Linked DNA regions of Homo sapiens. The protein of the gene in region 1 purifies or fractionates together with the protein of each later gene. This does not show direct contact. Each region holds a gene or a part of one and is shown in the gene's direction. Other genes may lie near its edges. The genes, in order: KLF3, TOMM70, GLUD1, ME2, TPM4, ALDH5A1 and GRHL1.

Region 1 (3,500 bases):
TGACTGGTTCTTGTGATGCCCACCTCTGACTCCTAATGATAATGGCCCCCAAGCCTGTGCTATCACCTGTCTTAGAATTTTGCCAGGTATCGGCCTTAATGTTTGACACAGGAATCATCTTAGGATTAAATTTCAGATTTTTCATCTGCAGTAGTGACCACATTGATCTTAGTTTTAATATTTTTGAGACCGCCTCTCATAGCATTTTTAATGTTGAGACCACCTCTTTGAGCATTTTTTTAAGGTCACATATATATCGAAATCTAAACTATTTTGTAAAGCCCATGTAATTGTTAAGTGCCTTGTTAGCATATTTTTCTTAATTCATGTTTCAAGTAAATGGACTTATTTGGCTGTTGACACGTTTTCCTTTTCTTTTCTAATAGTCATACCCATCTAATTACATGGAATCCATGAAGCCTAACAAGTATGGGGTCATCTACTCCACACCATTGCCTGAGAAGTTCTTTCAGACCCCAGAAGGTCTGTCGCACGGAATACAGATGGAGCCAGTGGACCTCACGGTGAACAAGCGGAGTTCACCCCCTTCGGCTGGGAATTCGCCCTCCTCTCTGAAGTTCCCGTCCTCACACCGGAGAGCCTCGCCTGGGTTGAGCATGCCTTCTTCCAGCCCACCGATAAAAAAATACTCACCCCCTTCTCCAGGCGTGCAGCCCTTCGGCGTGCCGCTGTCCATGCCACCAGTGATGGCAGCTGCCCTCTCGCGGCATGGAATACGGAGCCCGGGGATCCTGCCCGTCATCCAGCCGGTGGTGGTGCAGCCCGTCCCCTTTATGTACACAAGTCACCTCCAGCAGCCTCTCATGGTCTCCTTATCGGAGGAGATGGAAAATTCCAGTAGTAGCATGCAAGGTAAATTCCGCCACTGCTCCATGCTGCTGCACTTGCTTAGCGTACTGGCGCTTCACCAGATGGGGTGGGTGAGGAAGCATGGGGGCAAGAGCTGTTGAACTCTTCAAAGGAAATACTCATCTGCCTAAGGCATTTCCTTCCCCCGCCCCCCCAAAGTGTTGATACTGGAAGAGATCCCAAGAATCAGGCTGTCTGTTTGATACCATGACATGATTACTTTCACTATGTAATGGTCAACTTGGGGATAGAAAGAATCTTGACTTTATGTTGCTTTCTTGAATACCAACATGGTTCTAGGTACAAAAGGCATTTAATAAATCCTTTTTGATTGTGGTGAAAACTAATGGTGATCAAAAGCTACCTTGTTTATCAGCTGGTCATAGAGGACTAAGGGGTTGAAAGGAAATAATCCAGAATTATAAGAACGAATCATTTCAGGGCTGGTGTCTTATAATCTAGGTCCCTATATTTGCTGCTTACTGGCAAAATAATGGTCAGGAGAGGTGAGAATCTCCCACAGATTTGTTCCTGCTATAGTCTGCCAAAGGCAAATAAACCTGTCATATCTGTGTTGTAGGTAGGAGCTATGCAGTAAGCTTTTAAAAGCTGAAATTGGTAAACTGTACGTGAAGTGACTTTTCTATTTTTATTTTTTAGTACCTGTAATTGAATCATATGAGAAGCCTATATCACAGAAAAAAATTAAAATAGAACCTGGGATCGAACCACAGAGGACAGATTATTATCCTGAAGAAATGTCACCCCCCTTAATGAACTCAGTGTCCCCCCCGCAAGCATTGTTGCAAGAGTAAGTATATTTAGGTCTACCCAGCATTTGCATAGTAGTGTGCATCTTGGAACCTGGAGCAGAAGCACAAGATTTCACACGTGTGATGTGGTGTGGATGACCAGGAACGGCTTGTGATCTGTGGCCGCCACTGGTCCAGTACCACTGGTCAAGATGGGAGAATCTCTCCAAAAACAATATGCTGTTACACTGACAACGTTATGACAAAAGTTACATCAAGTTTTCATGGAATCAGTCATCCATGATTTTGCACCTTACCACATGAATTATTTTTGTTTTTTTTCCATTCTTCCAGGCTATGTATACTTAGTTTTTCCATTATGAGAATCCTTGTATAGATTAAACTTGGTGTTCTGTGGATCATGTAAAGTTTTCATGTGGACACACATAGTCCTTACAGAGTGTATAGTATCCTGTAGAATTGCTATCCAGTAGGAAGGCTGTGCAGTGTTGGTCAGCATCCAAGCACCTGAATGGTGGTTTCTTGTAGGTCTAACATGGTATAATGTGGTAGTTGCCACACACAGCTTCAGTAACCTCATTTGTGGGATCCTGCTGTAGATAACCTTGACCTCCACCAGTGATTACACTGAAGGCTGGGTTTGTAGTTGCTAAGAAGATGGTTTTCGGGTCCAACAAGGATCCCACCTCTGCTCTCTGCCATATGTATGATCTTGGACTAGTCACTTAATCTTGCTGCCCCATTTCTGTTTTCATTATTGATTGTAGTTGTGATTGTCTTGTGTTATGGTGCTTCAGCATTGGATTCAGCAGCCAGCTTCCTAGTACGAAGGCAACGATTACCTCCACAGGGTCCCTTCCATTGTCCTCCTGCATCATTTTCCTCCAACTTGAATAAATGTTCTACCCACCTTTCTCCTTTATTTTCTCTACCCCCTGTACCCCGCTCCCTCTCACAATTAACTCTACAGCAGAATGTGAATTCTCTGATTTTAGAATAACTATTTTATGGTAACTTCAAATATATCCTAGTTGTATCCACATTCAGCTTGGGTAGGTACCTTCATAGTAGCTCATGGATTAATTGTCCACTGCACCCAATCATAGTCATTTTTGGTTTGGGTTGTCATATGCTCCCCAATAGATGAAGAAGAGAATAACTCTTAGCCGACTTCATCAGCAGGTAGGGAGAGAGTCTCTGATGGAGTTATATTTCATTATTCCTCACAATTGCATAGTGCCCTCTTACCTCAAAAAAAACCTTCCCAGGTGTTTTCAAAGGAATTATTTTATTCCTCCACAACAAGCCTGTGGGAGTCGGAGCAAAAGGCAAAGTGATTACCTGAGACATTAGATAACTCGCCAATATTCACCCTGCTAACAACTGAGGGGCCTTGGGCTTGATCTCCTGCTTCCGAATCAGGGCTTTTCCTGCCATCTTGTCATATCCAACCCATTGCATCTGCTCATGCACTCAAGTGAAAGGAAAAAATGACTAGGCAAAATGGACACATCTTAGAGGTGGAATTAACTCTTTTTTTATGTTGAGGGATGTTTCTGGCAAGGTAACTAGCAACGTGGCCTGCACTTATAGTTGTTCCTGCATGGGTGATGAAAGAGATGCTATAAAACTAAATAAAACCAACTGCCTCCAAGGGAGGGATCCGTTGACTGGACAAGTGTTATTCCAAAGTCTGGGTTATTATGAGTTGCAACGTAAAACATTACATAAGAAGATTTGAAGGCAATATTCTGTGCTCTGAATGCTGCTCAAAAGAAAATACTTTTATTTTAAGTAATATTCTTTTGATGATCTCAAGCTCAGTGGCTTTTAATGATTAATGAGTAATATGCTTAT
Region 2 (3,500 bases), on another chromosome or scaffold:
AAATATTTAAGTTGGCTTATTTTAGATATGAAAAGACTAAGAGCCATACAGCTAAATATAATGACTCACATACTTCTTAAAAGTCATCTTATAAATAACCGGGGTTAACTGAATATGGGCTAGGTATTATAGATAATATTAGGGAATTATTTTTGGAGATATATTAGTTGAAGCAGTTATAGCTGCTTTTTAAAAAATCAATAATTTTAAACAAATAGCTCTGAAGACATTTAACACATACATCTTAACTTATACTTCCAAATGAATATTGCCCTTAAGATAATTCCCTGGCCAGGTGCGGTGGCTCACTCCTGTAATCCTAGAACTTTGGGAGGCCGAGGTGGGTGGATCACCTGAGGTCAGGAGTTCGAGACCAACCTGGCCAACATGGTGAAACCCCATCTCTACTAAAAATACAAAAATTAGCCAGGCAAGGTGTTGGGCGCCTGTAGTCCCAGCTACTCAGGAGGCTGAGGCAGGGGGATCACTTGAACCCAAGAGGCGGAGGTTGCAGAAAACAGAGATTGCGCCACTACACCCCAGCCTGGGTGACAAGAATGAAACTCTATCTCAAAAAAAAAAAAAAAAAAATTCCCTTGGGCTGTATTATGATAAATTATGAATAAGTGATGTGACTGTACCTATGAGAATGTGATATTAGAGCTGTGACTAAGAATGGGATTATCTGTATTGAACAGTTTACCAGAGATTATCTGCTGTGGCATATAACTAACCACTTGCTGAAGAAAGAGGATAGTTAAGATTTCATATTTATAGCAGTGCCACCTAAAAACTCCGATAATTAAGATGTAAAATGTAAATCAGTCTGTATCCCCAAAACGTGATAATTTTGTAATAATGAATGAAGTAAATTTTTATAATGAATAATAAGTATACTTTTAACTGCTTAGGTTGACGGTTACCTTAATATAACTGAAGTATCTCCTCACATAGGCATTAACAGATCAACAACAGTTTGGTAAAGCTGATGAAATGTATGATAAATGTATTGATTTGGAACCAGATAATGCTACAACATATGTTCATAAAGGGTATGTATTTTTGTGATTGTTCCAATGAGATAATAAATTTCTTGCATAGTAATAAAATGTATTTATTTTGGCCACTGAGGAAGGGGACTGTGGTAGAGAAGTTAATTGACAAACTTCTTAATGCTCCTAGATGTCTTTTCATTCTTACAGAAATTAGTTAAGGAGGCCAGGCGCAGTGGCTTACACGTAATCCTAGTACTTTGGGAGGCCGAGGCAGGCAGATCATCTGAGGTTGGGAGTTCGAAACCCTCCTGACCAACATGGTGAAACCCGGTGTCTACTAAAACTACAAAAAATTAGCCAGGTGTGGTGGCACATGCCCGATTCCCAGCTACTCAGCAGGCTAAGGAGTGAGAATCACTTGAACCTGGGAGGCAGAGGTTGCAGTGAGCCAAGATTGCACCACTGCTCTCCAGCCTGGGCGGCAGAGTGAGGCTCTGTCCCAAAAAAAACAAAAAGAAAGAAATTAATGTACTATTCTTGCTCTGTGTTAAGGGTTTTAATTTCAAACTGAACATCCTGTCAGCTGTTGGCTTATATCCAAATACGAAGCATACACAAGTGTTCGTGTCCTTGCGTACTTGAATTATCCTAAGAAACTTCACTTAAATTTATATAAAGTGAAAAATAAGGGATGCAAGATTGGTAATAGAGCCTAGACCATTGAACACTTTTTGTAATAAGGAACTTAGACTAGCAAACCAATATAAGCTGAGAAAAAAAACACAATTTGATGCTGATTATATATTGCCTTATAAGTTATAAGTTAACTTATAAGTTCATTGAAGGCAGAAATTGAGTCATATTAATGTGTGTGTATTCCTACTGATACTGGGCCATGGTCACATCTGACATTTTTTTGCATTTGCAGTTTACTTCAACTTCAGTGGAAGCAAGATCTGGATAGAGGTTTGGAACTTATCAGCAAGGCTATTGAAATTGACAATAAATGTGATTTTGCCTATGAAACCATGGGAACTATTGAAGTACAAAGGTAACTTCTGGAGTCTGTTAGGAAATATATGGTAGCTCCATAGATATTTAGCTTTTTGTTCTTATTACGTACATGTTAAAGTCTGTTATGTTCTTTCCTCTTTTCACCTGTATTATTCACGTTGGAAAAAAAAATGTGCTAAGGCAGTGACATAAGGATTGGTAGCCAAGTTGCCAGAAAATCTGGACCCTCCTCCAAAGAAGCATCCAGCCAAATGGCTGGGCAAGTTGCAACATCAACTCAGAGCCCCTGAATTTTCTTTAAAATCAGAGTTGGATAAGAACATTTTTTGCAGCTCTGTCCTTAACCTCTTATTTTGTGTAAGTGTTTATCCAGAGTTGCTCTTAAGATCCACCATTAAAAGGTGACAGCTGTTTTATATATGGGATTTATTGTATACCATCTTAATACTGGTATTGCCATTCATTTGAGTTTCCTACTTTAGGCCAAGTATTAAACTTTAGATGTTTCCTAAGTACTATTTCAATTAATCTTCATCCCCATCTTTATAAAGGTGGAGATTATATGATCCCTAATTTAACTGATGCCCAGAGGGCTTAGGTTTACAAGGTTGCACAGTAAGCCAATAGAGAAGACAGGGTTTGAGCTCATATATCACTGATACCACAGTCACTGATCTTGGCATTATCACTTGTCAGGAAGCAGCATGAGTTTTCTTAATTCCCTATCATTCAGCCCCTCCTGTAGTCCTCTCCCTGCTCTACAGTAGGCAGAATATATATAGGCTGGTAAAAAAAAAATTGTGTTTCTTTTAACCATTCTGTACCCACAGTGGCATGTAAATATTAAGTTTTTTTTTCTTCTTTTTATGAGACAGAGTCTCCAGCCCAGGCTGGAGTACAGTGGCACAATCTTGACTCTGCAACCTCTGCCTCCCAGGTTCAAGTGATTCTTGTACCTCAGCCACCCAAGTAGCTGGGACTACAGGCATGCACCACCATGCCCAGCTAACTTTTTGTATTTGTAGCAGAGATGGGCTTTTGCCATGTTGGCCAGGATGGTCTCAAACTCTCGGCCTCAAGTGATTTGCCCATCTCAGCCTCCTGAAGTGCTGGGATTACAGGTGTGAGCCACTGCACCCAGCCTAAATTATTTCTTAATTGCTAATTTGTTAATGTGAATAAAATATTCTTGTACTAGAATAGGATAGGGTGGTAGTTCTTAATCTTTTTTGAGCGAAGCTGTGGATTCTTCTTAGAATAATGCACACAAAAACACTTTGCTTTTAATTCAAGGCTTTCATAGATCCTGGGTTAACTAAAGACCTCTGATAGGGTTTGATGGAATTTTGTTCACGTTAATTGAACTTTGAAAAAATCCATTCTGAACCTTACAATTAAATAAGTGAATTTGAATAAATGAAATTGCAGATTATCCTAGGATTTTGCAGATCTGCTAGCTGTTGGCCTAATGCCAGAACATGAACTCTTGAA
Region 3 (3,500 bases), on another chromosome or scaffold:
TTTTTACTGGAGATGGGGCTTTGCCATGTTGGTCAGGCTGGGCTTGAACTCCTGACATCAGGTGATCCACCCATCTCGGACTCCCAAACTGCTGGTATTACAGATAGGAGCCACTGTGCCCGGCCTCCTACTATTTGTTATAGGAGCTTTTGCCAAACATACAACATTTCTGAAGATATTAATCTTTGTTTGCTTGATGTTTTTGTATCTTACTATTATCTGTGTTTATATTTTCTTTGTGCACAATCTGAATATTCTTTTTATGATATGTAAGTATTTGTCATGTACCCTTTAATTTTCAAGCAGTTTAAACCTATATTTTTTTTAATCTAGAAGGCTTCTAATTTGTTTGAATAGAATATGCATAACTACTTAATAGAATGCTTGCCCTATCAGTATAGTTAATAGAATGTTAATACTTACTGCCGAGCGTGGTGGCTCACACCTGTAATCCCAGCACTTTGAGAGGCCGAGGCAGGTGGATCACGAGGTCAGATCGAGACCATTCTGGCTAACGGGGTTTAGTAGGAATCCCATCTCTACTAAAAACACAAAAAATTTGCCAGGCGTGGTCGCGAGTGCCTGTAGTCCCAGCTACTCAGGAGGCTGAGACAGGAGAATGGTGTGAACCTGGGAAGCAGAGCTTCCAGTGAGCCAAGATCACGCCACTACACCCCAGCCTGGGCAACAGAGCGAGACTCCGTCTCAAAAAAAAAAAAAAAAAAAAAAAAAAGAATGTTAATTGTTACTTAATAATAGAATACTTGTCCTATCAATATCAGTATAGTTAAACAAAATAAGGTCTACTTAAATAGAAAATAAAGTGTATTTTTCTCTACTTTCCTTTCTTAGCATTTCCCCCACAAGTTCCCATGAAATTAAACTATAAAGGCTGGGCATGGTGGCTGGTGCTTGTAATCCCAGCATTTTTGGAGGCTGAGGTGGGAGGATCACTTGAGCCCAGAAGTTCGAGACCACCCTGGGCAATATTACAAGACCCCATCTCTACAAAAAATGAAAACATTATCCAAGCGTGATGGTGCATGCCTGTGGTCCCAACTACTAAGATGGGAGGATCCCTTAAGCCTGGGGGGTTGAGGCTGCAGTGAGCTATGATTGTGCCACTGCACTCTGGCCTGCCACACTCTGGCCTGAGCAACAAAACGAGACCACATCTCAAGAAGAAAGAGAAATGAAATAAAGCTATTCGGATTCATTTTTAGGAAAAAAAAGTCATGAAATAAATGTCATGAAATAACCTAATATAGAAATACAGTAAGTATAGGTAACTCTAAAACTTGACTAGATTTGGCCTGTCTTTGATAATAAAAGGCATTTGGGCCTTTGATGTGCCGCATACCCAGCACTACTGTGAACTTGTGCATCCTTACATGGAGTCTGTTAACGTAAGTTAATATGAGTTAACTATCTCGCTCACACTTTTATAGGAGTGCCTACTGATTCTGAGATATGGTGAATTGAAGTCATCTTCAGCCTGTTAATAGCCTTCATAATTTTTAAAAGGTCTTTCCTCTTCCCCTAAATCTCAAACACATTTTATAGTCTTGAATGGTTTCAGACTTTATTCAGTCATATTTGTCACCCATATCTGCAATATCTCCAGCTTAATTTTATCAGACTTGACAAGTACCTAATAATTCCAAAGGTCAAAAAGTGATTCATTGGAATACTGAAAGAAAACACAGCTTAAACTCTAGTAATTTGATTTATTTGCTTAATGTGCAAAAGCCTCATTGACCCAGGATGCAGTTAAATTGACGTCTTGGCCCAGAAAGCTTTGAAGCCTAGGAGGTAGGCAAAGGGAGTTTTTTCTCTCACTCCTCGGCAAACCTTCAAATTTGATGTTATTTATCTGTTATTTCCTGACTGCCCATTCCACAGAGAGTGTCAGATTGAGGCTCAGACCTGAGCCTGAACCCTGATCCTGTCACATGTGTGTTTAGCATCAGCTTGTAAATTTCTGCAAAACAAAAGAAAAAAAGAGGCTGGGATTTTTATAGGAATTTCATTGAATCTGTACACTAATTTGTGGAGTATTGCCATCTTCCCCACCCTCCCCAAAAAGGTTTTGTCCTTTCACCCAGGCTGGAGTACCAGACAGCAGTCACTGCAACCTTGACCTCCTGGGCTCAAGCAATCCTCTCACCTCACCCTCCCAAGTAGCTAGAACCACAGGGGTGTGCAACTGTGCCTAGCTAATTTTTTAATTTTTTGTGGAGACACGGTCTCATCACGTATCCCAGACTGGTCTCAAACTCCTGAGCTCAAGCAGTCTTCCCACCTCAGCTTCCCAAAATTCTGGGATTATAGGCATGAGCCACTGCACCTGACCAGTATTGCCATCTTAACCATATTAAGCCTTCCAATGCTGAATATGAGATGTCTTTCCATTTATTTAGGTCTCTTGATTTCTTTCAATGATGTTTTGTAGTTCTCATTGTAGAAGTCTTACATAGAAGTCTTACAACTAAATATTTTACTCCTTTTAATGCTATTGTAAGTGACATTGGTCTATAGTTTTCTTATGATGTCTTTGTCTAGTCTTTGTATCAGGACAATTCTAGCCTCATGGAATGAGTTGAGGAGTGTTCCTTCCTCTTCTGCTTTTGGAAAAGCTTTTGAAAGGTCAATGTTCATTCTCTTGTGTGAGTGTAAATATCACCTAAGTTCTGCAGGACCCTGATGTCTCCACCCTTCTCATCCCCTTATATCTCTGTGTACCAAAATTACCCTTTCATCTCCTACTCTATAGTCACATGCTGTTAGAAAAGTTGCTTTTTTAAAAAAGATTAACTTCTGCCTCATACCTGTTCTCTATATAAGAATTTATCTGTTAGGCCAAGCATGGTGGCTCATGCCTGTAATCCCAGCACTTTGGGAGGCTGAGGCGGGTGGATCACCTGAGGTCAGGAGTTCGAGACCAGCCTGGCCAACATGGTAAAACCCCGTCTCTACTAAAAATAAAAAAAAATTAGCCAGGCAGGTACCTGTAATCCCAGCTACTCAGGAGGCTGAGGCAGGAGAATTGCTTGAACCTGGAAGGCGGAGGTTGCAGTGAGCCGAGATCATGCCATTGTACTCCAGCCTGGGCAGCAAGAGTGTAACTCCTTCTCAAAACATAAAAATTAAAAAAAAACAAAAAGAATATATCTGTTATTCAGGAACTACTTGTTTTTTGTTTTTGTTTTTGTTTTGAGACAGAGTCTTGCTGTGTCACCCAGGCTGGAGTGTAGTGGCACGATCTCAGCTCACTGCAAGCTCCGCCTCCCGGGTTCACGCCATTCTCCTGCCTCAGCCTCCCAAGAAGCTGGGACTACAGGCGCCCGCCACCACGCCCGGCTAATTTTTTGTATTTTTAGTAGAGACAGGGTTTCACTGTGTTAGCCAGGATGGTCTCGATCTCCTGACCTTGTGATCCACTCACCTCGGCCTCCCAAAGTGCTAGGATTACAGGCATGAGCACCGCACCCGGCCTCAGG
Region 4 (3,967 bases), on another chromosome or scaffold:
ATCCAACCTGCTGCATCTTGTAAGTTCCTGGCAAGCAGAGTTACTTTAGGTCATTCATATTTATAACCTCTCCTTGCCTGCGGTGGTTATTATAGCAACCACACCTATGGATTATCACCTAACTGGAGTTTCCTCCTCACAGGCCCCACCCTTCAATGTTCAGAGAGGGGCGATTGCCCCAGATTTTATTTAATTGTCAGAGTTTAGGAGGGAGCAATTCACTCTTCCCTACTTCCACTCCATCTTCTCAATCCTACATTTCCATCACTTTTAATTTTATTCTGCCTTGCCTCTTTTTTTATATTTTACATCTTATTTTTGAAATTGTCATTACCATGCCTTGTTTTAAGAGTACACAAGCTCATTATAGTAAAGAGTTTTGGGTGATAACATTTTCTGAAATAAGGGTGAAGAAATATCCTCCCATGTCACAACCGTTGGGAGGGCGGGGGTAGGGATGTTGGAAGGCACGGTCCCTGCGGCTTTCAAGGACAAGACAATTAAGTGTTCCGGTGCTTTTCTGAGGCAGAACATTGAGCATCTATTTATGGTGACTGTGACAGTGGAGGTGATTGGTAAATTCACCGCAGGCCAATAACCTTGCCAGCAGCCATGAGGAGTGGCAAAGAATTCTGCAGAAGAGCAAGTCCTAAGCACACAAAACAGCTCGGAAAGTGAAAGCGTCGCTGAAGTGCGGAAGCCTCGCATTTCCTGGGTCCTCTTCTTCCTTCCTTTGCCGTCTCCTGCCCTCCCGTTCTCCCCCTTCCTCTGTGGCTCAGGCAGGACAGACCCCAACTCCCAGCTTCCCTGGCCTCCGCGGGTTCGGAGACTGGGACCCCCGGGCCAGGAGTGCTGGGGGGCGCGGTCGGCCAGCCCCGGCTTCCTTCATGGAGCGGCGGAGCTCCACCTCCTCCTCCGCACTGCACTTCTCACATCCTCAGCATCGCGTCCACGAGGCCGCCCGCCCCGCCTCAGAACCGTAACCTCCAGGAGCTGGGTTGAGGAAGGCGCGGAGGACAGGAACCCCAGCGCCGGCAGCTAAGCCTCCAGACGGAGCCCGCCCCTCCGGCCGGTTCCTGCCTCCAATTGGCCCGCGAGCCCGTCCGTCTCCACCGTGGGCCACGCCTTCCGGGCCCCGCGGCTGGCCGGCTCCTCGCGCCCTCCCCTCTCTCGGCCGCTCTTCGGGCCGCCTCTGCGTGTGGGGCCGCCCGCGCCAGTGTGAGCCTGAGCTGACGGCGGCTCCGGGAGGCTCGCAGAAGGGGAGGGCCGGGCGGCGCGGGAGCTGAGCATCGCCAGGGCGGGCGGCAGGGCGCGGCCTCTCCGCCGGGTGTACCACCTGTCGCGGCGCGAGACCTCTGGTAAGGCCCGGCGCGGTGGGGCCCGGGCGGGGGTCCGGGAGAGGAGCGGGCGCCGGCCTCCCCTGGCCCGGCCCCGAGAGCCCAGCGCTGCCGCGCCTCCGGCCTCCGCGCGTGCGGCCCCCGCCGTTCCCGGCCTGGCGGTGGGGGCTGGGGGAAGGGAAGCGGTCTGCGGAGTCCGGGCTGAGGGCGAGGGACCGGCTACATCGCGGCGACCCAGGTTCCAGCGGCCGCGGCTCTACCCGGCGCGCGATTTCCAGGTTCCTCCGCCGGCTGGTGCCTGGGCGCCCCGCTCTCGCCCGGGAGCGAGGCCCTGGGCCTCCAAACGCCAGCATCTCTTTCTCGCTCTTTCTGCACCCCTCCACAAAAGGACTTCTGTGGCTGGAAACCCTTTGGCAAGCCTATCTCCTTTATTCAGTCGGGCCGAGTTAACGGCAGGAGTTAGGCTGTGTGTGTGGCTCCTCCCTTTAAAAAAAGACTTGCTGCGGGCTGGAGAGTTCTGAGATTGGACCGATTCCGTCTATTATTAAATGCCATCTGTGGACCGGGATTGGCAGGTGTTTCTTTCACGCTGGCGATAACTATCTCTGCATGTGGTGTTACCTAGGTGGTCCTAGGTTTCGACTTTCTTTTTTGGTTCCAGAGATAATTCTAGAAAATTTACGTTGCTTGTGGTGAGAAGCGTGATCAAATTAACACGTGCTTTCTTACAAAACGTTTTATCATCTTCTGTCTGTGGATTTACCTTCCTGATGCTTGTGGCTATCACCTCTAAGCAAAGAGGTTAATAGCATTGCTATTTCTGTTAGTGTTGCAGTTGATAACGATAACAATAGTAGCATGTATTAATTGCTAGTGACAGGCAGAGCGCTAGTTTCTACACGGATTATCTCAAAATAACCCTTTGAGGTTGATACTGTTACTGCCTCCACTTTACAAACCAGGAAACTAAGGTTTAGGTAGGTTAAGTAACTTGCCTAAGACCACAGTTTTAACGTGACAAAGCCTAGATTCAAACTCAAGTGGTCTAACTTCATAGCTGCATCCTCCACCCCCACTCCCTTAAACGTGTATACTCCTTAAGCATTGCTCATGTTGTTAAGCTAATTGCGATGTTGTACCCATAATTTTGATTTTCAATTTACAAATACTCTGTAAATTAGATGAGAGAAACAGTTGTTTTTAAAAACATACATATAGGCCGTTCGCGGTGGCTCACGCATGTAATTCCAGCACTTCTGGGAGGCCGACGTGGGTGGATCACCTGAGGGCAGCTAATTTTTGTAATTTTAATAGAGACGGGGGCTTCGCCGTATTGGCCAGGCTGGTCTCGAACTCCTGACCTCAAGTGATCTACCCACCTTGACCTTCCAAAGTGCTGGGATTACAGGCGTTAGCGACCGCGCCTAGCTCCTAATATGACTTTTATCATGCATTAATAGGAAATGTTGGGCTATGCTTCTGTAGAAATATTCTCTTGAGAATAATATATTTATGCTTAGTAGCTATTTCTGAGAACTGCTTATGGGTGACACCCTTAGAGGGTGTTTATATGTTTTTGTCTTTTAATATATTTATGAAAACAAAATATTCATAAAGGAAAAAACCCATTTACCATTTGGGAACTTCTTTTGTAAAATTAAAAACTTACAGCTATGTATGTATAATCTGTATATTAAGTTAAAAACTCTAATTGATTTTGGTGAATTTCAGACAAACTAGACATATTTTATTCTCTTTAAGACGGAGTTTTGCTCTTGTTGCCCAGGCTGGAGTGCAGTGTTGCGATCTCCACTCACTGCAACTTCTGCCTTCCGCGTTCAAGCGCTTCTTCTGCCTCAGCCTTCTGAGTAGCTGGGACTACAGGCATGCACCACCATGCCCGGCTAATTTGTGTGTGTGTGTATTTTGAGTAGAGACAGGGTTTCACCATGTTTTTCAGGCTGGTCTCGAACTGCTGACCTCAAGTGCTCCACCTCCTTCGGCCTCCCAAAGTGCTGGGATTACAGGAGTGAGCCACCATGCCCGGTGAACTAGCCGTATTTTAAAACACAAATAACATTAAAACCTATATTTACTAAGGATTAATATTACAGGACAAAATTCACACTAAATAAAAATTACATTGACTTTATAAAAAGATAACTTTTATTAGAAATTAACTATTTTATTTGAAAGTTACGATTTTGATTTTATGGTGGCATATTGTACCTCCTTTGATCAATATGTACAAATTTCAAAAGTGATAAAAAATATATTCTGTATATACTTGTTTAGGATGACATTTGATGTTGCCTGTATTTGTATACCATCCAGATTCTCATTCTTGACTTTGAGATTTGATTTGAAATATTTTGAATAAATGTTAATCATGATTATCCTTATAGCCTCTTATATTAATTTGATCATTAAAAGATGTTGATGCAGAAACAAGCAGGCATTTAGAAGGCACCTTGTGACCACCTTAGTCTACAACTACTAATAGTAATGCTTATGATAACTAGCCTTTCTAGAGCACCTAGAGGGCATTGTGATAAGCATCTTAATGAATTATCTAATTTAAATCTTAAAATAGCCTATTAAATAGGTCTTGTAGTTTAACGTTCCCATTT
Region 5 (3,500 bases), on another chromosome or scaffold:
GGCCTCCTTTTCTTAAAGCAGTGTTTTGGTTTCTCCCACAGTATTCTGAAAAGGAGGACAAATATGAAGAAGAAATTAAACTTCTGTCTGACAAACTGAAAGAGGTGAGTGTGGTGGCACCCAGCGAGCTCTGGTTTCTCCTGGGGCTGGTCTTGAAGCCATGATAGTAACTCCTTTCTTCTTATCTAGGCTGAGACCCGTGCTGAATTTGCAGAGAGAACGGTTGCAAAACTGGAAAAGACAATTGATGACCTGGAAGGTATGAGGTTACCATCTAAATGTTTGCCTTGCCCTGCCTTCCCCTCTGGGACACATCCACGGACAGTTGGGGAATGTTTGTGGAGGGGCTGGGTTGGGCTTTGTTTGCCTTAGGAAAGTAAAGCGCATAGTGATGTCATATCTGGATGTCCTGGAACACTGGAATAGGATAATGCAAAGCATTCAGGCTTGAATGGCCCTTTTTTTTTTTTTTTTTTTTTTCTATGAGACGGAGTCTGGCTCTGTCTCCCAGGCTGGATGGAGTGCAGTGGCGCCATCTCGGCTCACTGCAACCTGCGCCTCCCGGGTTCAAGTGATTCTCCTGCCTCAGCCTCCCAGGTAGCTGGGACTACAGGCGTGTGCCGCCACACCTGGCTAATTGAATTGCCACTTTCAGGAGGTAAAATATCTCTGCTTAGTTAGTCCCATGAGCAAGTATAGAGAAAAGAGTATGGCTCTCTCTGATTAAAAAAATATTAATAATAAATTAAAAATCTCAGGCCAGGCGCAGTGGCTCAAGCCTGTAATCCTAGCACTTTGGGAGGCCGAGGCGGGCGGATCACTTGAAATCAGGAGTTTGAGACTAACCTGGCCAACATGGTGAAACCCCGTCTCTACCAAAAATAGAAAAAATTAGCCAGGCGTGGTGGTGCACGCCTGTAATCCTAGCTACTGGGGAGGCTGAGGCAGGGAGAATCCCTTGAACCTGGGAGGCGGAGGTTGCAGTAAGCCAAGATCACGCCACAGCTCTCCAGCCTGGGTGACAGAGCCAGACTCCGTCTCAAAAAAAAAAAAACTTCACAATTTCCTTCTGTTTGCTCATTTCTGATAGATGCCTTGCATTTTTTTTTTACATGCCTTGCATTTTTGCAGAAGCTCTGTCCCAGGGAGCTCAAAGCTTATCATAGTATTTAAAAAAAAAAACAGAAATACAGAAAGTGTAGGGACTGCAATAAAGACTAGTCTGCAAGTCTGGGGCCCACTTCTCCCAGAATTTTTTCAAGAGTTCCAGTGTTTAACATTCGGCCTCAGAAATTCCAGAATCTTGGGGTTCAAATGGAATCTTCCAAACTGCCCATCCCACCCAGAAAGGACACATTCTTCAGACCATATCTTCCAATGTTTTTTTGGGGAAGTGAGGTTCCCATATAAGGGAAAATGCCCCATTCCAAAATACGACCTTTGGACAGGGTGACGTCATTGGAAATCCGAAATAAACTGAGGGGTGGGGACCAGTGGGGGGAAGCTCTGTCACTTCTGGTTACCACTGTTTTGAAGCTTCATTGTGGCTAATCCCCCTGCAGAACCTCAAACCACTTAGAGATCAACTCCATAGATCTTTGGTTTTCTTCATCTGTTTCACATGGAACACAGCTTTCTCCTAGTCTGTGCTTTGTTTGCTCACGTGTTTTTTTCTTCCTCTTGTGGTTCATCTGTGGCACTCCATTCCGACCCTTGCCTTCTGTCCCCTGTACTTCTGAACTGTCTCCCTGGGGACCTCCGCCCTCTAGATGAGTTATACGCTCAGAAGCTCAAGTACAAAGCTATCAGCGAGGAACTGGACCACGCTCTCAACGACATGACCTCTCTCTGAGAGGCAGCCAGGTCGCTGCCCTCTGTCCTTCTCACATGGTGCCTCCTACGCCCCTGTGGGCTTCTAGGAGCTCCGGTGGCCTGCCTTCTGGTTTGAACGTCAGAGCCTTCTTCTGATGTGTCTGTGACTCTACAACCGAAATAAAGACGGGCAGTCCTCCTCTTCATGCCCCCTCATTCTCATTTTCTCCACTTGCTGCCTTTGAGCTGTAGCTGTGTGCCCTTAACCATAGCCTGAAACACAAAGTGGGTGGTTAGCCTCTCTCACTCACAAATGAAAAGCTTATTACAAAAAGAAAATTATGCCTACAGGATGCTTTTCTGAAGACGTGAAAACAAAAGCAAACTGGGCATGTGCTCTCAGATACCGCTGTTAGCTAACGGCATCTGCATGCCAATAATTTTTTTTTGTTTTTTTGTTTTGAGACAGGGTCTTGCTTTGTCACCCAGGCTGGAGTGCAGTGACACCATCATAGTTCACTGCAACCTCCACCTACAAGGCTCAAGCTATCCTCCCACCTCGACCTCCCAAGTAGCTGGAACTACAGGTGTGCACCACCACACAAGGCTAATTTTTGTACTTTTTTTTTTTTTTTTTGAGGCGGAGTCTCACTATGTCGCCCAGGCTGGAGTGCAGTGGTGCAATCTCGGCTCACTGCAACCTCCGCCTCCCGGGTTCAAGCAATTCTCCTGCCTCAGCCTCCCAAGTAGCTGAGATTACAGGCATACACCACCACACCTGGCTAATTTTTCTTTTGGATTTTTAGTAGAGACAGGGTTTCACCATGTTGGTCAGGCTGGTCTCAAACTCCTGACCTTGTGATCCGCCTGCCTTGGCCTCCCAAAGTGCAGGGATTACAGGCTTGAGCCATCACGCCTGGCCATTTTTGTACTTTTTGTAGAAGCGGGAGGGTTTCACTATGTTGCCCAGGCTGGTCTTGAACTGCTGGGCTCAGGCAGTCTGCCCACCTCACCCTCCCAGGGTGCTGCAATTACAGGCATGAGCCACCGCGCCCATCCCCAATGGTTTTTCCTTAAATAGAAATTGTTGTGAATGGAGGCTCATCCTTGTAAACCGCTTAGGCAGCTTAAGAGTCAACAGGGATTTGGAAAAACCAGCAAGCCTGTGTCAAAAATGAGGCTCCCCTTGAATGGGGCTTGAGCTACAGATTCAAACAGCGGCAGTGACATTTTGATCTCCATTTCCTCCTTTTCTTGTGTCTTTTCTCTGTGTTACACTGTGAGTGTGGTGACTGGGGCTTCCCGTGGCTTTACTCTTCACTGTTCATCCAGCTCCCAGTCCTGGGAGGAAGTTCACCTCCACGCCCTGCCCTTAGAAAACTGACTGTACAAGGAGTGAACGGGCCTCCATGAACAGGGAAAGTGCTGTGACGTCAGAAGACGTGAATTTAGAATTCTTTTCCCGAATTCCAGAATTGCCTGAGACTGCTAACATCAATCTCCATTCATATTTCAGTTAGTTATAACAGGAACCTTGCTTTAGTTTAGAATAGCTCTTAAGGTTGACCTGTGGGTAATAAAAGGTCATGCTTTTTCCTACATGAGGAATATGGAGAAAACAAGGTCACTCTTTTTTTTTTTTTTTTTTTTTTTTTTTTTTTTTTCAAGACAGGGTCTCACTCTGTTGC
Region 6 (3,500 bases), on another chromosome or scaffold:
AGTAGGTATCTAGGCAGACTACAGCTTCAAGAGCGAGGCTAGGTACCTCAGGGTAGGGCTCTCTCGACTTTGCCTTTTGGGGAAGGGAGCTGCCCTTATGTGAAGCCTGCAAGTTAGAATAAACCCAAGCTTAAAACAGCAAAGACCACTCATGCCACACATCCCCAAATTGATCAACCCAGTCCTTGTGTGTGTGTGTGTCCCCCAAACACACTGCTGGAGCTGAGAAGGAGCTGACCAGGTTAGTTTCGACAACTCAGTCCTTCATTCAGAAAGATGAACAACCAAGGATCATGATGGGAAAACCACCAGCACATAAGAGGAAAGGTCAGGAAGAACAAACAGAATAGTCCCTGAAGGAAGCAGATAAATTAGGGAACTGGAAGGAAATTTTCTAAAAATCTCATAGTGTCCTGCAAGAGTTTTGGGAAGATAGTACATCTGTAAACTGTTAATAAGAAGTATGTTCTAGGCTTAAAGTATAATAATAATAAAAAAAGAAGTATGTTCTAGGAAATGAAGCAATGAAAACAAAGAGTCTGTAGAAATTAGACATATGACTGTCACAAGATTCGGTACCTGAAGTAGATGATAAAATTTCGGAGATCTTATGGAGTTTAAAGCAAACTATAGAGAGGCAAAAAATATAATAGAAATGCAAAAAAAAATCAGAACTAATCTGAACTCCTGTTAATACCCGTCCAGTAGTAGGAGTTCTGGAGTGAAATAATTGGGAAAATGGAGGAAGTGACATTACCAAGTAAATAATAGATGGAAACTTCTCAGAGTTAGGGGAAAATAATTATTCTGCAGATTGAAAGATTTCACTGCTTACCAAGTAGGATGAATGAAAAGGGAATATATATATATCTTCTCTATATATATATATTCTATATATATATATCTTCTATATATATATTCTATATATATATCTACTATATATATATTCTATATATATCTACTATATATTCTATATATATATCTAATATATATATATGTGTGTGTGTATATATATATATATATATATATATATATATATAGTATTGCTAAAATTTTAGAATATCAGAGCATAGAAGATCCTAGGAGATTTCAGAGAGGAAAAAGCTATCAAGAAGAAAAAGGGTGAGAACCATTTTTGGCTCAAACTTCCTCAGCAACACCGGAAGTGGAGAAGTGCACTCAAAGTTCTGAAAGTTATTTTGTATCAGAATTCTGTACTCAAGCAAATTATCAATCAGGTGGAGTACAAAACACCAGAAACTTGGTGTATGAAAATTCAGAAACTAGACCACATCCAGTGCATCTTTTTTAAAACAACTACTTGGCCAGGCCTCGTGGCTCACTCCTGTAATCCCAGCACTTTGGGAGGCCAAGGCGGGTGAATCACGAGGTCAGGAGTTCGAGACCAGCCTGGCCAAGATGATGAAACCCTGTCTCTTCTAAAAATACAAAAATTAGCCGGGCGCGGTGGTGGGTGCCTATAATCCTAGCTACTCGGGAGGCTGAGGCAGGAGAATCGCTTGAACCTGGGAGGCAGAGGTTGCAGTGAGCCAAGGTCATGCCACTGCACTCCAGCCTGGGTGACAGAGCGAGATTCCATCTCAAAAACAAATAAATAAATAACAACTACTTGAGATTATGTGTGTCAGAAAGCAACAAAAACTCAGTTCAGGAAATAGGACAACATGGGATCCAAGAAGCTAGAAATAACCGCAGAATGCAATGAAAGCAAATCCAAGCAAACGGCTGAGCCGCAGGCCTAGAAAGAAGCGAATATATATTAGACCATTCAACAAATAGGAAGATCAAACAGCTAGAAGATATCAAAGACCAAGGAGGAAGGTGGCACTCTTGCTTCTGAATCTCTGCAAATGTGGTTCCTTCTACAAAAGGAAACCAGCATGCTTTATTGTTAACCTACTTTTTTTGAAAAAGAAAAAAAAATGGAACTAGTTATAGTTTTCTGCAGTTTAAACATTCTAAAAGATTGTATCATGTGGAAAGCTTTTTTTCTTCCTCATTACACAGGTGGAGAAACAGGTGAATGATGCCGTTTCTAAAGGTGCCACCGTTGTGACAGGTGGAAAACGACACCAACTTGGAAAAAATTTCTTTGAGCCTACCCTGCTGTGCAATGTCACCCAGGACATGCTGTGCACTCATGAAGAGACTTTCGGGCCTCTGGCACCAGTTATCAAGTAAGATCCTCCAGCCAGCGGGGAGATGGGAGGAAGAATAGAAGAGAACATAGGAAACCCTGAAAGAGATTCCTGGGCTGCTTTGAGGTCTGGCCAGGAGGCAGACAGTTGTGTTGAGTCCATTGAAGAGCAGAGTGCAATTTATGGGTTTTTAAAAAAATCATAACTTATTTGGACCATAAAATTTATCAAATTCTATTTTTTTTTTCTTTTTGAGATGGAGTTTCACTGTGTTGCCCAGGCTGCAGTGCAATGGTGCGATCTTGGCTCACTGCAACCTCTGCCTCCTTGGTTAAAGCAATTCTCCTGCCTCAGCCTCCAGAGTAGCTAGGACTACAGGCACCCACCACCATACCAGGCTAATTTTTTGTATTTTTAGTAGAGATGGGGTTTCACCATGTTGGCCAGGCTGGTCTCGAACTCCTGACCTCAGGTAGTCCTGCGTTGGCCTTCCAAAGTGCTGGGATTATGGGAGTGAACCACCATGCCTGGCCTCAAATTCTTTAATTTACTTTTTCTTACTTTCTGCTGAACTCTTTTTTTTTTTTTTCTTGAGATGGAGGATGGAGTCTTGCTCTGTCACCCAGGCTGGAGTGCAGTGGCATGATCTCAGCGATTCTCGTGCTTCAGCCTTCCGAGTAGCTGGGACTACAGGCACGCGCACCATGCCTGGCTAATTTTTTGTAATCTAGTAGAGATGTGGTTTCACCATGTTGGCCAGGCTGTTCTTGAACTCCTGACCTCAAGTGATCCGCCTGCCTCTGCCTCCCAAAGTGCTGAGATCACAGGCATGAACCACCGTGCTCAGACCTGAACTCATTTTCCTTCTTAATGTATTATACCTCAAAGGATTCTTTCATTGGCCTCCATAGGACATGAACTTTCTGTGTCGTTTTGTGGTCTTTTATCTCCCATTCACAAGTAGATAATAATTTACCTGGATAAAATTTTAGGTTCAACCCTTTGGAGATATTACTCCTTTATCCACTTTTTTTTTCTTTTTTTTGTTTTTTGTTTTGATATGGAGTCTAACTCCGTCATCCAGGCTGGAGTGCAGTGGTATGATCTCGGCTCACTGCAACCTCCACCTCCTGGGTTCAAGCGATTCTCTTGCCTCAGCCTCCCGAGTAGCTGGGACTACAGGCATGTGCCACCACACCTGGCTAATTTTTATACTTTTAATAGAGACAGGGTTTCACCATGTTGGCCAGGCTGGCCTCAAACTCCTTACCTCAAGTGATCCAACAGCCTCAGCCTCCCAAAGTGCTGGGATTACAGGTGTGAGTCACCACGCCCGGCCTC
Region 7 (3,042 bases), on another chromosome or scaffold:
AGAAGCTAACAAAAGTGATTTTTAATCAAGTACAATCTTAAAAACTTCATACATAAAAACAGTGGCTCCTCAGTCTACCTTTAAAACTCCCAATCCTAGGAAATTACTGAACTTGCATCAAGACCTCACTACAGCCTATTGCAGAGAAAGTAGACGTGTAACCAGTGATGGCCGTAAGTCCATCTTACGAGGATCTCAGCACGAGGCTGGAATAAACTGACCCCATGCTCCCTGTGGGGATATCAGTAAGAGAGGAAACATGGAAGGCTGCTGTGTTAATTTCCCGTTCCAGCTGTGCACTGGAAAAACGCATGTCATCAGCACTGAGTGCAGATATTTACCAGCCTGTCTCCTAGAGACCGTAGAGATCTTTAAGCTCAAAGTGTGTCCATAATTGGGCTAAAAGCATCTCCCCCAGCTCCCTCTGATGACTGTAGTGTGTTGAATTCATTTAACACATCTTGATAAAGGGCTTGCTTCATGCCAGGCACTGTGGCGGGCACTGGAGTTATGCGCGTCAGTGACACAGTGCTGAATGGAGTTTATTTTGTAGTTAGGAAGACACAGACACCAAAATAAGCAAAGAAGTTGAGGTCATTTTTCAGGTACTGATGAGTGCCATGAAGATTAATAAAGCAGGGAGATGGGGCGTGGGTTTGGGGAGCTGCTGTGCGGTCTCTCAGCCAGGCGCCCCAAGTCCACGGGTGTCACTCAGTGCATCCCTGCCTGCCCACAGCACAGGCAGCGCCGTTCCCACTGTCACTTCCTGCCTCCTAGGATGTCCCCTGGGTTTCTCTTTTCTTGCCTTTTGATGACCCTTCATCATGTCTTAAGAATCATGCAAACTGGCCAGGTGCGGTGGCTCACACCTGTAATCCCAGCACTTTGGGAGGCAGAGGCAGGAGGATCACCTGAGGTCAGGAGTTCGAGACCAGCCTGGCCAACATGGAGAAACCCTGTCTCTACTAAAAATACAAAAAATTAGCCAGGCTTGGTGGCAGGCGCCTGTAATCCCAGCTACTCGGGAGGCTGAGGCAGGAGAATCACTTGAACCAGGGAGGTGGAGGTTGTAGTGAGCTGAGATCCCGCCACTGTACTCCAGCCTGGCATAGCAAGACTCCGTCTCAAAAAAAAAAAAACAACAAAAAACAAACAAACAAAAAACATGCAAATTCTGATTACAGGGAAAGAGGAGAGTAAAGAGGATGCAGAATTACTGGGCCAGCATAACTGTTCATGGCTCACGAGGAACTCATGACAGGTCTTACATGTCAGAACACAAAGTATTATCATCCACTCGTACAGAAAAGAAAAAGGGTTTGTGTGGTGAGAACTTGGAGCTGGGGTCTGGTCTGAAACACGTGTTTGGAAGGTTGGCAGGATCTGCACGTTTGCCACCTGAGGCTCTGTTTCTCAGTGCCACCTTGAGCTTTGCTCTGTGGCTTGAGGTGAAGCTGGTGATGCCAGCCTGAGGATGGTCTGGATGACAAGTGTAACGTTTGATCTAGAGTGAATCAGCTGTTTGTCCTTGGAGCAATTCACCCATTCTCTTTAAAAATATTAAAAATAGCCTCTATGTCCCGAAAGGAAGACAGCCACAGCTCCCCAGAAGCTCATTACAGTGAGGGGCAGCCGGGCTGAGGAGAGCTGGAGGCCCCCAGCACACGAGCTGGGGCTTTTCCATGTCTTTGTGTCTGCGTTTTTGAAAAACAAAAAGTCGAGTGACTATGCATGTGTGTGTGTGTGTGTGTGTGTGTATATATATACATATATATACGTATATATATACATATATATACGTATATATACATATATATACGTATATATATACATATATATACGTATATATACATATGTATATATGTGTGTACATGTATATATATACATATGTACATATATATGTACACATATATATATACATATATATGTACACATATACATATATATGTACACATATACATATACATATATATGTACACATATATATACATATATATGTACACACATATATATACATATATATGTACACACATATATACGTATATATGTACACACATATATACGTATATATATGTACACACATATATACGTATATATATGTACACACATATATATACGTATATATATGTACACATATATATATACGTATATATATGTACACATATATATACGTATATATATGTACACATATATATACATATATATATATTTGTTGTTTGGTTTCTAAAGCCTTGATACAGGGTTTTGTAATTATTTTTCTTTCCTCTTTTAGATCTCAGACAAATACGATGTTCCCCATGACAAGATTGGGAAAATATTCAAGAAGTGTAAAAAGGGGTAAGCAGCCACTGCGTCCTGTGTACCTCGGAAAGTGCTGATGCCCCCCGCAGTGCTAGTGTGACGCACCCCCCAGTGCTGTTGACACCCCCCAGCACCATGTAACACACCGTGCATGCTAGTGACACCCTCCTGTGCCAGTGACACACACCCTGTGCCAGTGTGACACGTGTGCATCGTGCCCAGTCCAGAAGCAGCCAAAGAAACCTGGGTGCTGGAATGTGGCTTTTCTAAATTATATACGAAATTACTTAGATAAAATTGATCTGCCTTGAGGAGATCTTTGTGTATTGTTTCTCCAAGTCACCTTCTTTGCCCTCCACATGCCTGGCAGCAGTGCCATGGCTCCACACTCCAGGGTGTGTGGCCAGCGCCACTGAGGATGGCCAGGGCAGCACCTCCGTGTGTCGAGCCCGTTGGAGCCGGGCACTGGGTTGGGCACGTCCCACGGTGCTGCGCTTGGTCTTCACGTCTTCTTTCTGAGCTGGTCTCAGGGCTTGTTTATATTTATAGACAGGCGGCTGAGGCTCAGAGTTCAAGAGGCTTTTCGGGGCCATGGTTGGTATTCCCTGCCTCTGCAGCCCATGCCCTGCTCTACCCTCCTGCTCAGGATCCTATTTCCAAGTTATGTCACGTTGCTGCTTTGTCTAGAAATTAGTATTTTTAGTTCTTTTTTGTCTGTCTATGATGTTTGGCATGGATAAG

The links.
Region 2: the proteins of KLF3 (region 1) and TOMM70 purify together in Homo sapiens (affinity purification with mass spectrometry, with the first as the bait; one large-scale study listed by BioGRID). This does not show direct contact.
Region 3: the proteins of KLF3 (region 1) and GLUD1 purify together in Homo sapiens (affinity purification with mass spectrometry, with the first as the bait; one large-scale study listed by BioGRID). This does not show direct contact.
Region 4: the proteins of KLF3 (region 1) and ME2 purify together in Homo sapiens (affinity purification with mass spectrometry, with the first as the bait; one large-scale study listed by BioGRID). This does not show direct contact.
Region 5: the proteins of KLF3 (region 1) and TPM4 purify together in Homo sapiens (affinity purification with mass spectrometry; one large-scale study listed by BioGRID and IntAct). This does not show direct contact.
Region 6: the proteins of KLF3 (region 1) and ALDH5A1 purify together in Homo sapiens (affinity purification with mass spectrometry, with the first as the bait; one large-scale study listed by BioGRID). This does not show direct contact.
Region 7: the proteins of KLF3 (region 1) and GRHL1 purify together in Homo sapiens (co-immunoprecipitation; one large-scale study listed by IntAct). This does not show direct contact.

Annotation. Positions count from the first base shown.
Region 1 is NC_000004.12:38,688,199-38,691,698, forward strand, and holds part of KLF3 (Krueppel-like factor 3), read left to right. Parts: intron 1-386; coding exon 387-873; intron 874-1,530; coding exon 1,531-1,681; intron 1,682-3,500. UniProt on the Homo sapiens protein: Binds to the CACCC box of erythroid cell-expressed genes. May play a role in hematopoiesis.
Region 2 is NC_000003.12:100,366,590-100,370,089, reverse strand, and holds part of TOMM70 (mitochondrial import receptor subunit TOM70), read left to right. Parts: intron 1-954; coding exon 955-1,052; intron 1,053-1,923; coding exon 1,924-2,046; intron 2,047-3,500. UniProt on the Homo sapiens protein: Acts as a receptor of the preprotein translocase complex of the outer mitochondrial membrane (TOM complex). Recognizes and mediates the translocation of mitochondrial preproteins from the cytosol into the mitochondria in a chaperone dependent manner.
Region 3 is NC_000010.11:87,070,844-87,074,343, reverse strand, and holds part of GLUD1 (glutamate dehydrogenase 1, mitochondrial isoform a precursor), read left to right. Parts: intron 1-3,500. UniProt on the Homo sapiens protein: Mitochondrial glutamate dehydrogenase that catalyzes the conversion of L-glutamate into alpha-ketoglutarate. Plays a key role in glutamine anaplerosis by producing alpha-ketoglutarate, an important intermediate in the tricarboxylic acid cycle.
Region 4 is NC_000018.10:50,877,951-50,881,917, forward strand, and holds the start of ME2 (NAD-dependent malic enzyme, mitochondrial isoform 1 precursor), read left to right. Parts: upstream 1-1,167; 5' UTR 1,168-1,358; intron 1,359-3,967.
Region 5 is NC_000019.10:16,093,495-16,096,994, forward strand, and holds part of TPM4 (tropomyosin alpha-4 chain), read left to right. Parts: intron 1-41; coding exon 42-104; intron 105-189; coding exon 190-259; intron 260-1,769; coding exon of another isoform or gene 1,770-1,852; exon of another isoform or gene 1,853-3,250; intron 3,251-3,500. UniProt on the Homo sapiens protein: Binds to actin filaments in muscle and non-muscle cells. Plays a central role, in association with the troponin complex, in the calcium dependent regulation of vertebrate striated muscle contraction.
Region 6 is NC_000006.12:24,525,969-24,529,468, forward strand, and holds part of ALDH5A1 (succinate-semialdehyde dehydrogenase, mitochondrial isoform 2 precursor), read left to right. Parts: intron 1-2,028; coding exon 2,029-2,198; intron 2,199-3,500. UniProt on the Homo sapiens protein: Catalyzes one step in the degradation of the inhibitory neurotransmitter gamma-aminobutyric acid (GABA).
Region 7 is NC_000002.12:9,996,693-9,999,734, forward strand, and holds part of GRHL1 (grainyhead-like protein 1 homolog), read left to right. Parts: intron 1-2,272; coding exon 2,273-2,337; intron 2,338-3,042. UniProt on the Homo sapiens protein: Transcription factor involved in epithelial development. Binds directly to the consensus DNA sequence 5'-AACCGGTT-3'.